Linked DNA regions of Homo sapiens. The protein of the gene in region 2 purifies or fractionates together with the protein of the main gene of each other region. This does not show direct contact. Each region holds a gene or a part of one and is shown on either strand. Other genes may lie near its edges.

What was found.
Region 1: the proteins of KIF20A (region 2) and PHGDH purify together in Homo sapiens (affinity purification with mass spectrometry; 2 studies listed by BioGRID and IntAct, with this or other methods). This does not show direct contact.
Region 3: the proteins of KIF20A (region 2) and MYO1F purify together in Homo sapiens (affinity purification with mass spectrometry; 2 studies listed by BioGRID and IntAct, with this or other methods). This does not show direct contact.

What each region holds. Positions count from the first base shown.
Region 1 is NC_000001.11:119,721,934-119,725,433, reverse strand, and holds part of PHGDH (D-3-phosphoglycerate dehydrogenase), read right to left. Parts: intron 2,059-3,500; coding exon 1,993-2,058; intron 1,116-1,992; coding exon of another isoform or gene 985-1,115; exon of another isoform or gene 965-984; intron 650-964; coding exon of another isoform or gene 559-649; intron 1-558. UniProt on the Homo sapiens protein: Catalyzes the reversible oxidation of 3-phospho-D-glycerate to 3-phosphonooxypyruvate, the first step of the phosphorylated L-serine biosynthesis pathway.
Region 2 is NC_000005.10:138,182,112-138,185,167, reverse strand, and holds part of KIF20A (kinesin-like protein KIF20A), read right to left. Parts: intron 2,846-3,056; coding exon 2,707-2,845; intron 2,583-2,706; coding exon 2,395-2,582; intron 2,308-2,394; coding exon 2,178-2,307; intron 2,000-2,177; coding exon 1,805-1,999; intron 1,699-1,804; coding exon 1,587-1,698; intron 1,481-1,586; coding exon 1,412-1,480; intron 1,207-1,411; coding exon 1,063-1,206; intron 930-1,062; coding exon 764-929; intron 657-763; coding exon 492-656; intron 362-491; coding exon 222-361; intron 74-221; coding exon 1-73. UniProt on the Homo sapiens protein: Mitotic kinesin required for chromosome passenger complex (CPC)-mediated cytokinesis. Following phosphorylation by PLK1, involved in recruitment of PLK1 to the central spindle. Interacts with guanosine triphosphate (GTP)-bound forms of RAB6A and RAB6B.
Region 3 is NC_000019.10:8,574,643-8,578,744, forward strand, and holds the start of MYO1F (unconventional myosin-If), read right to left. Parts: upstream 2,801-4,102; 5' UTR 2,668-2,800; coding exon 2,665-2,667; intron 1-2,664. UniProt on the Homo sapiens protein: Myosins are actin-based motor molecules with ATPase activity. Unconventional myosins serve in intracellular movements. Their highly divergent tails are presumed to bind to membranous compartments, which would be moved relative to actin filaments.

The DNA.
Region 1 (3,500 bases), on a different chromosome or scaffold from region 2:
GTGAGACAGAGCCCCACCTGGCCCCTCTCTCCTCTCCCTCACATCCTATTTTCTTCCCACCAGACTCCACAGTGCTATCTAAGATGTATGCGTGCGGCACCACAGAACACAAGAAATCCCTAACCCTTTTCTCTGGCTGCTGCTCCCAGCTGATCATGGAGCCTCTCCAGGTTTCAATGCTTTGGAATCCTCATCAGGCCAGACTGGAGAGGACTCTAATGTGGGCGAGGGTCCTCACAATAATTAAATGGTTGCTGGCCTGACTTACTAGAGGAGGAGATGGTAAAGCAGGCAAAAATGGTGAAACCTACATTTGTTGATTCTCTCCTTCCTTCCTTTCTGTGTGCTGTTCTTCTGCACCTCAGGAGCCCCCGCCATCTGCTCAAAGTCCCTACTGTGAGGCCCAGCCACGCCTGCTCTCCACCCACATTGCCCAATCCTGTAGAGTCTACATATAGGCACCCACACTCTCCTACCGTCCTCCCTGCTAGGAACAGTCTGATGAAACGAACGCATTCCTTCCCAATAGGGTGTGCGTGTTTCCTAGTTTTGATGCACCTTTGATGAGTGAGGTCATGGTGAGCAGTTGACAATGGGGAGCTTCTTTTAAACCACAGCATTTCACCGATTCCTTTAAACAAAGCTGGTCCTGGAAAAGGAGGGAAAGTATTGCTGGCTCCCAATCCTTTCCTTCCACCTCCAGAAAAAAAGTGAGGTAATTAATCAGAAAGCCACATTGAGATCTTTTCCCTTACTCAAAAAAAAAAAAAAAAATCCCTGAAGGTAATAGCTGAAGTGAAACCAGGGTGCCAGGCTTCTGTACTTCTCCAGGGGGAGAGACACTCAGCCTAGATGTTCTGGGAGAACCCGGCTGCCAGCCTGGGGGCCCCTTCTAGGCTGAGACCCTACTGCTGTGTAAGCTATCCCTGTTTCTCCTTTCCCCCCACTGCCTCCTTTCACCTACCAGTGAATATCAGTGAATACCAGAGAGCTCAGATGGAAACTGCAGGGAGGAGTTAGAGCAGAGGTAAATTCCCCCAGATCCTCCTCCAGCAGGAGGGAAAGCAGGTCTCGCCATGGGAAAAGTAATTTCTTGGTCCCGGAAGGTTTCAGGCCTGAGTAGAGAAACAAGGAGTCCTTGATGCCTAGGTCCGCTGGTTTAGGGAATCCATGGAGCTTCAAAGGGACCTAGAACAACTTCCTACCCTGTTTATTGGGAGCCTTGTTCTTCCCCTTGACCACATAAATGCTTGAATTGCCTGTTCAACAGAAGTGCTCCATGCAATCAGTTTTGCCAAATTACTAACCAACACACTGAGACTCAAGCACATTCTGTGCCACAACCATTTGATTTCTAGGCTGCCCCATCCACTCAAGAGGCCTGGAACTCCTGCTAGAAGAGCAAGAGTCTTGCCCATTTGAGTTCCATTGTGTTATGAACCCACAGAACACACAAGGACCCTGAAGCAGGTTCTTACTCCATTCTATTACAATACAGATTTGTAAGGGCAGTGACAGAGATAAGCCCTGAGGGCCAGGGGAATCAGTGAGGGACATAGCCTAGCTGGAAAAGCCAGAGAGCTTCTTGGATAAATTAATACTGAAGCTTAATCTTGAAAAGTAAGCAGAGGGTACCTAGACACTGTCCATACCCTGCTGCCTGGAACATCCTTCCTTGTTATCTCCAGGCAGCAGGGTATGGAGAACATTTGCAAGAGTTGGAGGCTAGAGAAGGCAGATTGTCTGCAGCATGGAGAATAGAACATGAGTAAAGAGAAGTGCACCTTTGTGCACTAGGGAACCTGTGTAATGAATGTTGAATAGAGGACCTGATGGCCTTAAAGGTTCTTTGCAGTCTGCATGTCGCCTTCTTAGCAGTCTGCAAGTCGCTGAGACGAAATGTTTCTAAGTTTTTCTGGGTCCATTTGCTTGGCAAGTGGTAATAATTGGCATATCGGAGAGACTAGCTTTGCTGAGAAGTCAGGGACTTACCTGGCCAGGCACATGATCATTCCACAAGTGAGTTCTGCGGCACTGAGGCTGTTCCCATTGGGGGTGCTAAAGATCAAAGAAAAGGGGGACATCAATGGGCACAGACCCAGTATTCCCACTCCTTCCCCAAGAGAAAGCCTTGAGTGCAGGCTGTGTTCTCTCACTCCTGCTCCATGAACTGACCACGCCACTGTCCAGAGTTCTCTGATGTACTCTCGCCCTAAGCCAAGGGCTGGAAAGAAACCCCCTTCCCCTGGCTTTATGTTTCCCTGCAGAGGGACCTCCATTAGAGAAACATATCTGGCTTCTCTCTATCCAAACACTCCTCCCAAGGCAGAGAAGTGTCTCACATGATCAGATTTGTGTGTGGTTCAGCCCTTTTCTTTCTCCTATTTCAGGATCTACCTGCCTCCAGAAAGCACAAATTCCCTGCTGCTCCTACCATTGATCTTACCAAGGTCAGAGTCTCTCGAATTCAGGGCTCAGTCCAATGCCTACATATCTTCATCAAGTTACCCAACCTGGCTTTTTTTTTTTTTTTTTGACAAGGCCTCGCTCTGTCACCCAGGCTGGAGTGTACTGGCATGATCACAGCTCACTGCAGCCTTGACTTCCCAGGGTTCAAGCAATCCTTCCAGCTCAACCTTCTCAGTAGCTGAGACTACAGGCTGGTGCCAACATACCTGGCTTTTCTTTCCTTCTTTTTTTTTTTTTGTATTTTTGTAGAGATGGGGGTCTCACTTTGTTGCCCAGGCTGGTCTCAAACTCCTGGGCCCAAGTGATCCTCCCACCTTGGCCTTCCAAAGTGCTGGGATTACAGGTGTGAGCCCCCACACGCAGCCCCAACCTAGCTTTTATTAGTAATCTCCACCTGTCTGACTACTCTTCCTATCTCTCAACAAGTTCTGAACTGAGAAAGCCTCCTCACACCCTAAGTCACAGGGCAATCCAGACCCTTCCCATTTTATAAACAAAAAAATAGAGGTGGCAACCCACAAAACTATTTTTCTTTTCTTAAATGCTTTTTAGGTTTTTGAAAGAATTTCATATACGTGTTCACCCTGATTATTCCCCTACTGGGTCTGTCTTTTTCATCTCTGGAATGAAGGTTAATAAGGTTACAAGAAGAAAAAGTCAAGAGATCCTGTATAAGATAAACGGACTCTCAGAGTCTGTCTGCCTGCAAAACCACCTGGCTTCTCATCCTCCCACAGCAAACAGGCTGTATGGGGGCGCAAGTAGAGGTGCAGAGATTGGGGCCTGGCTGCCTCTGGGTCCAAGGCAAGAATGTGGGATGGGTTATCGTTTAACATTTCTGCTGTTGAATATTGACTTCAGTCAGGTGACCAATTAACCTCTACCCTACAGGGGGAAGTGCAGTGCAGGGGAGGGGAAAGGTCTTAAGGACAATGAAGTCCCCAAGGGAAGAGAAAAGTCTTAAGAACAAAGAGGCCTGGGGATGGCCTTGCCATACCATCTAAGTGACAGAACGGGTACAGTACAGCACT
Region 2 (3,056 bases):
TGACTCCTTGAGGATATTTAGTTTTTCTTCATACATTTCCTCCAATAGTTCCTTTTGGGTGTCCAAATGTTCACTGTCAGAAACAGAGGAGAAAAGAGAGGTAAGTGAAGGTTCTGAGGAGTGAACTTGGGGAACAGATCTTGAGGCACAACTCCACCTAACTCCTTACTTCCCACCCTCTGTCTCAGGTGACAGAGCAAGAGGGGTCACTCAGCTAGTACCTGCACCACTGTTCCCGCTGTTGCATCTGTTCTACCATCTCATTGCAAATTTCATCTCGGAGATGCATCTCCAGCTGTAGCTTTTCCTGTCGTTCCTTCAAAAGCAGTGTCTTCATGGCTTCCACAACTTGTAGGAGCTCCTAGGAGAGACACACATGTCAGAGGTCATCAGATGCTCATGCCCTCAGAAGGCACAAGCCCACCTGGAAGGCACCATGGAAAAATGTGTAGCTACTAAGCTGCTACACTAAAGCTTTCTTGTATTCTCACCTCTTTGCCATACATGGAGATGTCAGCTTCATTTTCAATATCATCATCAAGGCCTGTGTCTGCCTTAGCCCCTTTCTCTAAGCTGGGGGATACCTGAAGACTATGTTCCTTGATGAACGAGTGCAGGGATGGGAATCCCAGTTGCATAGGTGGGGCATGCACAAGCTAGAGGGAAAAAAAATATCTTACTTGACTCCATAAGTAGTCCCTAGGAGCTTTCTTAGAGTTACCAGTTCCAAGTGCGCACACCCATCACACCTCTAGCTTCTCACCTGGCTAGCAATGGCTGAGAACTTGGCCACATGAAGAGTTTCATCATAGGTAGATGCACAGGGATTCACATTGACAATCATGCAGGAACGGCCTCGGCCTGTGAAGAAACCTTGGAACACTCGAGTCAACTTGCTGTCACGGAAGGGAACCAGGTTCTGCTTTGACCTGGCAGAGAATCAGAGATAATAGAGCTGTGAGCAGAACACCAGCCCTTTGGGTATCCTAGCACCATCCCCAGTGGTGTCCAGGAAGTCTCTTAGCAAATTGCAGAGCCCAGGAATTATAGTCAAAAGCTCACCGGTTCTGCTGGTTTTGACGAAGGGCAGCAATACAGCGGCCCAGGGTGTGTAGAGAGGTGTTAATGTTTCCTGCTTCCTTCAACCGTTCACCACTCTTCTGATCTTTGCAGCGCTCTGAGCCAGCCAGATCACAGAGTGACAGCCTAGAATGATGCACAGGATCTGACATAAGGGCCTCACATGTTATGAGCCTTCTGGCCCTTTGTATAATTCTGGAGAGGGGACGGCCCACTAAGAATCTCTGTACCCAAAGAAGGAGAACACATAGTTCCCCTGAGGACCTCCTCCATGCTTTCCCAACTATCATTTATGGCCAAGAAGCCCAAATTTCTAAATGGATAAACTTACTCGCTGATCTTGGGGACTATATCTCCTTCCCCCTGAAGGTGTAGGATCCTGATTGAGAAGATGCTGTGACTGGAAGTTAAGAAAAACAAAAAGTCATTGCACATTTTCCATGACCAGGCAGAGGACTAATGTTTCCTGGAACACAGTGAAGAGTTTATTCTTACAATCTACTCACCTGCGGCTGGAGTTCTGGTTGAGGTGGGTGCTGGCAAAGCTCTGGTTCTTACGACCCACTTTTAGGAGCTTCCAGGCCTCCTCAGCATCTTGCACATGAATCCAGTTGAGATCTGGGGCCAAAGGAGAGGGGTGTAAGATGGGAACATCCAACTCTTTTGCCAGTCTCTCCCCAGTTGCCCTCCAGGGTTCATGCCAGCTTTCCCCATGTTCCTTTACCTTTCACATAGGGATTGCCATTTTGATCCTCGCATAGCCGCAAAGTCTGCCTCTTGCGCTGTTGGCTAGGCGGTTCTAATAGGTCATAAAGCAGTTCGTTGTAGATCTCAAAGAATGAGATCCAGATGGAGAAGCGAATGTTTGCCGGGACAGGTAGTGGGGCAGTGTCTGGCTGTGCCCATCGATGACTTGTTTCTGGAGAAGAAGCCAATGTATAGGGCATCAACCTAGAGCAGTTCACCTCTCTTTTGGCCTGCAGGGGCCTTGGAAGGCAGACCTTAGATTGCAACCTCTGGTCTGTACTCCTGGCAGCTATTAGGAACAGGGAGTGAGTTCCTACTATTTTTTGGCAGAGCCCAGTCACGGTACATACCATCCAGCTGGCTACTGCTGGTACACTGACTGATAGAAGAGAGCCCAGCAATGCCACTGTCGAAGCTGGTGCTGGTACCTATCCGACTTTCGATGTAGACACTCCTCTTCAAGGAAGTGGACAGCTCCTCCTGGAGGGGCACAGGGAGAAGGTAAGCACAAAACTTCCCCGAGATTTGTACCCCCTACCCCCACTGCCATGGATACCAATGCTTTACCTCTTGGAGGCCTCCATTTAGCAGGGACAGCTTCTTCATTTCCTCCTGTCGGATCTGCTTGCTGTCTAGCCAGATTACCTCATTGGAGAGCAAGGGCTTCAGATCAGGTGTTGGATGAAGTTGGCCTTGGAGGCTATTGAAGATCAGCGCCAGGGACCGGGGGAGAATCCCTCCATCCTTGATGGTACCTGGAGGCATATGAAAGATGGACAGCTGAGGCAAGTGCCCTTCTCCCCCTAACTCAGAGTCTCAAAAGGTAAAAACAACACCATTACCAGCCAATCAGGAATCCCGTGAAGGCTTACTACTCACCTTGAATCGTGTGGGTTTTCCCTGAGTTAGTGACTCCATATGTATAGATGAGCCAGTTCTGCCCTTTGAGTACATCCTTTACCATCTCCTTCACAGTTAGGTTGAAGAAGGATGCCTGTCCCACTTCTGGCCCAAAGATCTAGAGAGAGACCCAGTTTTTTAGAGGCCTCTCCTTCATCTCCCACTTGCCTCCTGTGCAGAGCCAGCAGATATATTCCTTCCTGAGTGGTTGGCTCTGGAGACCACTCAAGCAGCTTCTTCCTGCAATGCTGCTGGCTGTTCCCTAAACACTGAGGACTCAAGCACTCTCTGCTAGTCCATCTTTCCACCAAATCAACAAACACTTAAGG
Region 3 (4,102 bases), on a different chromosome or scaffold from region 2:
TTCCTTTCTTTCTCTTTCTTCTTTCTCTCTTTCTTTCTTTCTTCCTTTCTCTTTCTCTCTTTCTTTCTTTTTCTTTCTCTTTCTTTCTTTCTTTTTCTTTCTTTCTTTCTCTCTCTCTTTCTTTTTTTTTTGAGATGGAGCCTCTCTCTGTGGCCCAGGCTGGAGTGCAGTGGCGTGATCTCGTCTCATTGCGACCTCTGCCTCCTGGGTTCAAGTGATTCTCCTATCTCAGGTTCCCGGGTAGCTGGGGTTACAGGCGCGCACCACCACGACTGGCTAATTTTTGTATTTTTAGTAGAGACAGGGTTTTGCCATGTTGGCCAGGCTGGTCTTGAACTCTTGACCTCAGGTGATCCGCCCACCTCGGCCTCCAAAAGTGTTGAGATTACAGGCATGAGCCACTGCACCCTGCCAACGGCATTAGATTTTCTTTTTCTTTTTTTTTTTTTTTTGAGACGGAGTCTGGCTCTGTCGCCGAGGCTGTAGTGCAATGGTGTGATCTTGGCTCACTGCAACCTCCGCCTCCCGGGTTCAAGCGATTCTCCTGCCTCAGCCTCCCGAGTAGCTAGGATGACAGGCATGTGCCACCACACCCAGCTCATTTTTGTATTTTTAGGAGAGACGGGGTCTCACCACGTTGGCCAGGATCGTTTCTATCTCTTGACTTCGTGATCTGCCCGCCTCGGCCTCCCAAAGTGCTAGGATTACAGGTGTGAGCCACCGCACCCGGCCGGGCATTAGATTGTCATAAGCAGCATGCAACCTGGATCCCTCGTGTGTGCAGTTCACAACAGGGTTTGCGATCCTGTGATAATCTAATGGCGCCCCCGAGAATCTGAGAGGAGGTGGAGCTCGGGCTTGCTTGCCTGCCACTCATCTCCTGCTCTGTGACCCGATAGGGCTCATGGTTTCTAACAGACAGACCATGGCCCGATAGCAGTCCATGACCCCGGGGGTTGGGGACCCTGTTGTAAAGGACTTCAGAAATACTGTTTCATTGAATCCTTCAGCGATCTTCCTGGCATTCACCACTCCTCCAGGAAGATTTCAGCATCCCCAGACAGAGGTGGGTGTCATTTTTTTCTCTTCTATCATCCTCTGCGATACGGGTGGCCCCTCCCAGACCTTGTCTGCCAAGCCGACTGTTGACTAAGCATTTTCAGAGGGCTTCCTTGGGGAGGGGTTGCCTTTCTTTCAAGTAGCAAATCACTTCCTGTGTTCTTTTGATCAAAGCCCTGCCCATCCCAGGACCTGAGCCTCCCTGGCTTGCTTCTCATCTTGGAAGAATTCCCACCCCAACAGTCTCAGAGCTCCAGCTGATGGTTTGGGTGTGAATTCCGGGATGCCCAATTTCTCATCAGCTTTCCTTTTTTGAGACGGAGTGTGCTCTGTCACCCAGGCTGGAGTGCAGCGGCAGGATCTCAGCTCACTGCACCCTCCGCCTCCTGGGTTCAAGTTATTCTCTTGCCTCAGCCTCATATGTAGCTGGGATTACAGGCGTGTGCCACCACGCCCAGTTAATTTTTTGTATTTTTTAGTAGAGACGAGGTTTCACCACGTTGGCCAGGCTGGTCTCGAACACCTGACCTCAAGTGATCTACCTGTCTCAGCCTCCTAAAATGCTGGGATTACAGGCATGAGCCACTGTCCCTGGCCCTCACTGGCTTCCTGAAAGAAGGTGTTGTCTCTCAGACTAACACCACCTCTGCCTCTTGCCCTATGTCCCTGACTCCACCCTAGTAAGCTGTACCTGCCAAGAATCCTGCAGTGGCCGCTGTCACAGCCACATGCTCTCATCCTCACTGACTGAATGACGAGAAATGAAAGCTGAAGTGGTCTACACAGCAGAGAGCTGTGGGGTGGGGTCAGCCCTGGCCACCTCTTACTTTGCGTCTTATGGTGGTACGATACTGCTAGGAATAGCGCCATGATCACGACAGTCTCCCCGTTGCTATCATCGACAGACCTCAGACTTGACAGGCAGCAACACCTCTGGCTGCCATCCTCCTCTTGGGATAAGGGATGCCCACCAAAGGGTGGCATGGACGTATTCAGCCTCTCCTGCCTCTGCTGCAGCCATACCGCCCGTCACCGGCACAGGGAGGGCGTCAATCCACCCCATCGCTTGTTAGACATAGCTTCCCATCTCAGCCGAGGACTCTGTGGCAGAACCCACAGACCTTGAGAATGTTGCAACTGAAAGACCCCTGAAGAGCAACTTCCGCATCTAGACGGATTTCCAAATATGACATCTGTGGGAACCGGGGCCAAGAGAGGGGAAGTGACTAGCCCAAGGCTACACAGGGAGACGAGAGACTGGGCTGGACTGGGAAAGGGCTCCCTTAATTTGCAAGCAAAGGAGGCTATGTCCTTGTCCCTGCAGACTCTGTGATTCTCCCTGGGCCACCTTCTGTCTTCCAGGTCCTGCCCTATCCTTGGATCCAGGGATACCACCCTGGCATCCCCACCACCTACAGATGGGAGCTTGCTCCCTGGTAAGGGATGCTGGAGGCACCTGAGCTGCACTGAGAGACACCCCACCCCCACAGAAGTCCACCATGCCCCTCCCCTCACCCCAATTTCTGATGGTCATTTTTAGGACACCTCCACCTGGCTGGTGTCCCTCCTCTTTCTTCTTCCAGATCCCACCCTTGAAGGACTTACCATGGTGGGGGGCTGGTGTCTGGGCTCCTGGAGGCTCCTGAATGGGTCGTGATGGAGGTGCAGGTTCAGGGGGATCTTGGGGGTGGCTTGGGCATGGCCCTGCTTCTGCCCGTTCACCGGACTCCCGGCTTTAGTTCCTCTTACAACAGCCCCTTCTCACTTCCTTTGGCGGGAGGGGCCGAGGCCATGGGGGAGGGAAGCTGGGTGTGGAGGGGGGCGGGGAGCTGGCTGTTTGGGGCTCTGAGCCTGAAGGGAGGGGTCAGAACTTGATGGCAGCCACTACTGGACCTCAGAGGCCTCTTCCCCAACTCCTTGGGGACAGGGCTGCTGCAGGAACATTTGGGTCAGCTGGCTGCAGGACGAACCACCTCTTTTCAGGGCGATTCAGGAAGCATTTGGGCTTCCCGGGTCTCTTTTTAAAACCAAGGAAGGGGCCCAGGGGAGGTGGCTCACGCCTGTAATCCCAATACTTTGGGGGGCCAAGGTTGGAGGATCGCTTGAGTCCAGGAGTTTGAGACCAGCCTGGGCTATATAGCATGACCCCATCTCTACAAAAAATGAAAAGAAAAAAAATTAGCTGGGCATGGTGGCATGAGCCTGCAGTCCCAGCTACTCAGAGGGCTGAGGTGGGAGGATTGCTTGAACCTGGGAGGTGGAGGCCTCAGTGAGCCCTGATTGCGCCACTGCACTCCAGCCTGGGCGAAAGAGTGAGACCCTGTCTCTAAAAACAAACCAGAAAAAACAAAAAAACCAAAAAAACAACAACAACAGGGAAGGGTGCCTTCTTCAGCTGTGTCTGCTCTGGGCATCCCTGGGCAACCTCCTTCATTATTATTATTGTTATTATTTTGAGACGGAGTCTAGCTCTGTCACCCAGGCTAGAATGCAGTGGTGCAATCTCAGCTTACTTTAATCTCCGCCTCCTGGGTTCAAGCGATTCTCCTGCCTCAGCCTCCTGAGTAGCTGGGATTACAGGTGCCCACCGCCACACCTGGCTAATATTTGTATTTTTAGTAGAGACGGAATTTCGCCATGTTGGCCAGGCCGGCCTTGAACTCCTGACCTCAGGTGATCCTCCCAACTCGGCCTCCCAAAGTGCTGGGATTACAGGCATAAGCCACCACGCCTGGCCCAACCTCCCTCTTTAGATGACCCTCAGAAGTCACACGTGTTTGTGTGCAGAAGTGGAGGGTACTGGGAAGCAGGTGCATCTGAAAGGTCCCTGACTTTGGATGTCACATCTAGATTTAACAGCCTCCAGTTTGGCTACTTCCTGGATGACTTAGTTACTCCCTTTTCTCATTGTAAAATGGGAACGTGGGTCCCCCCAGCAGAGCCTGGCCCAGGTACGTGTCAGCCTATGAGCTGGTCTTTGGGACACCAGCCAACCACCTGAGGCTCCTCTTGACATGTGAGGAAATGGCAGTTCTAATAGGTT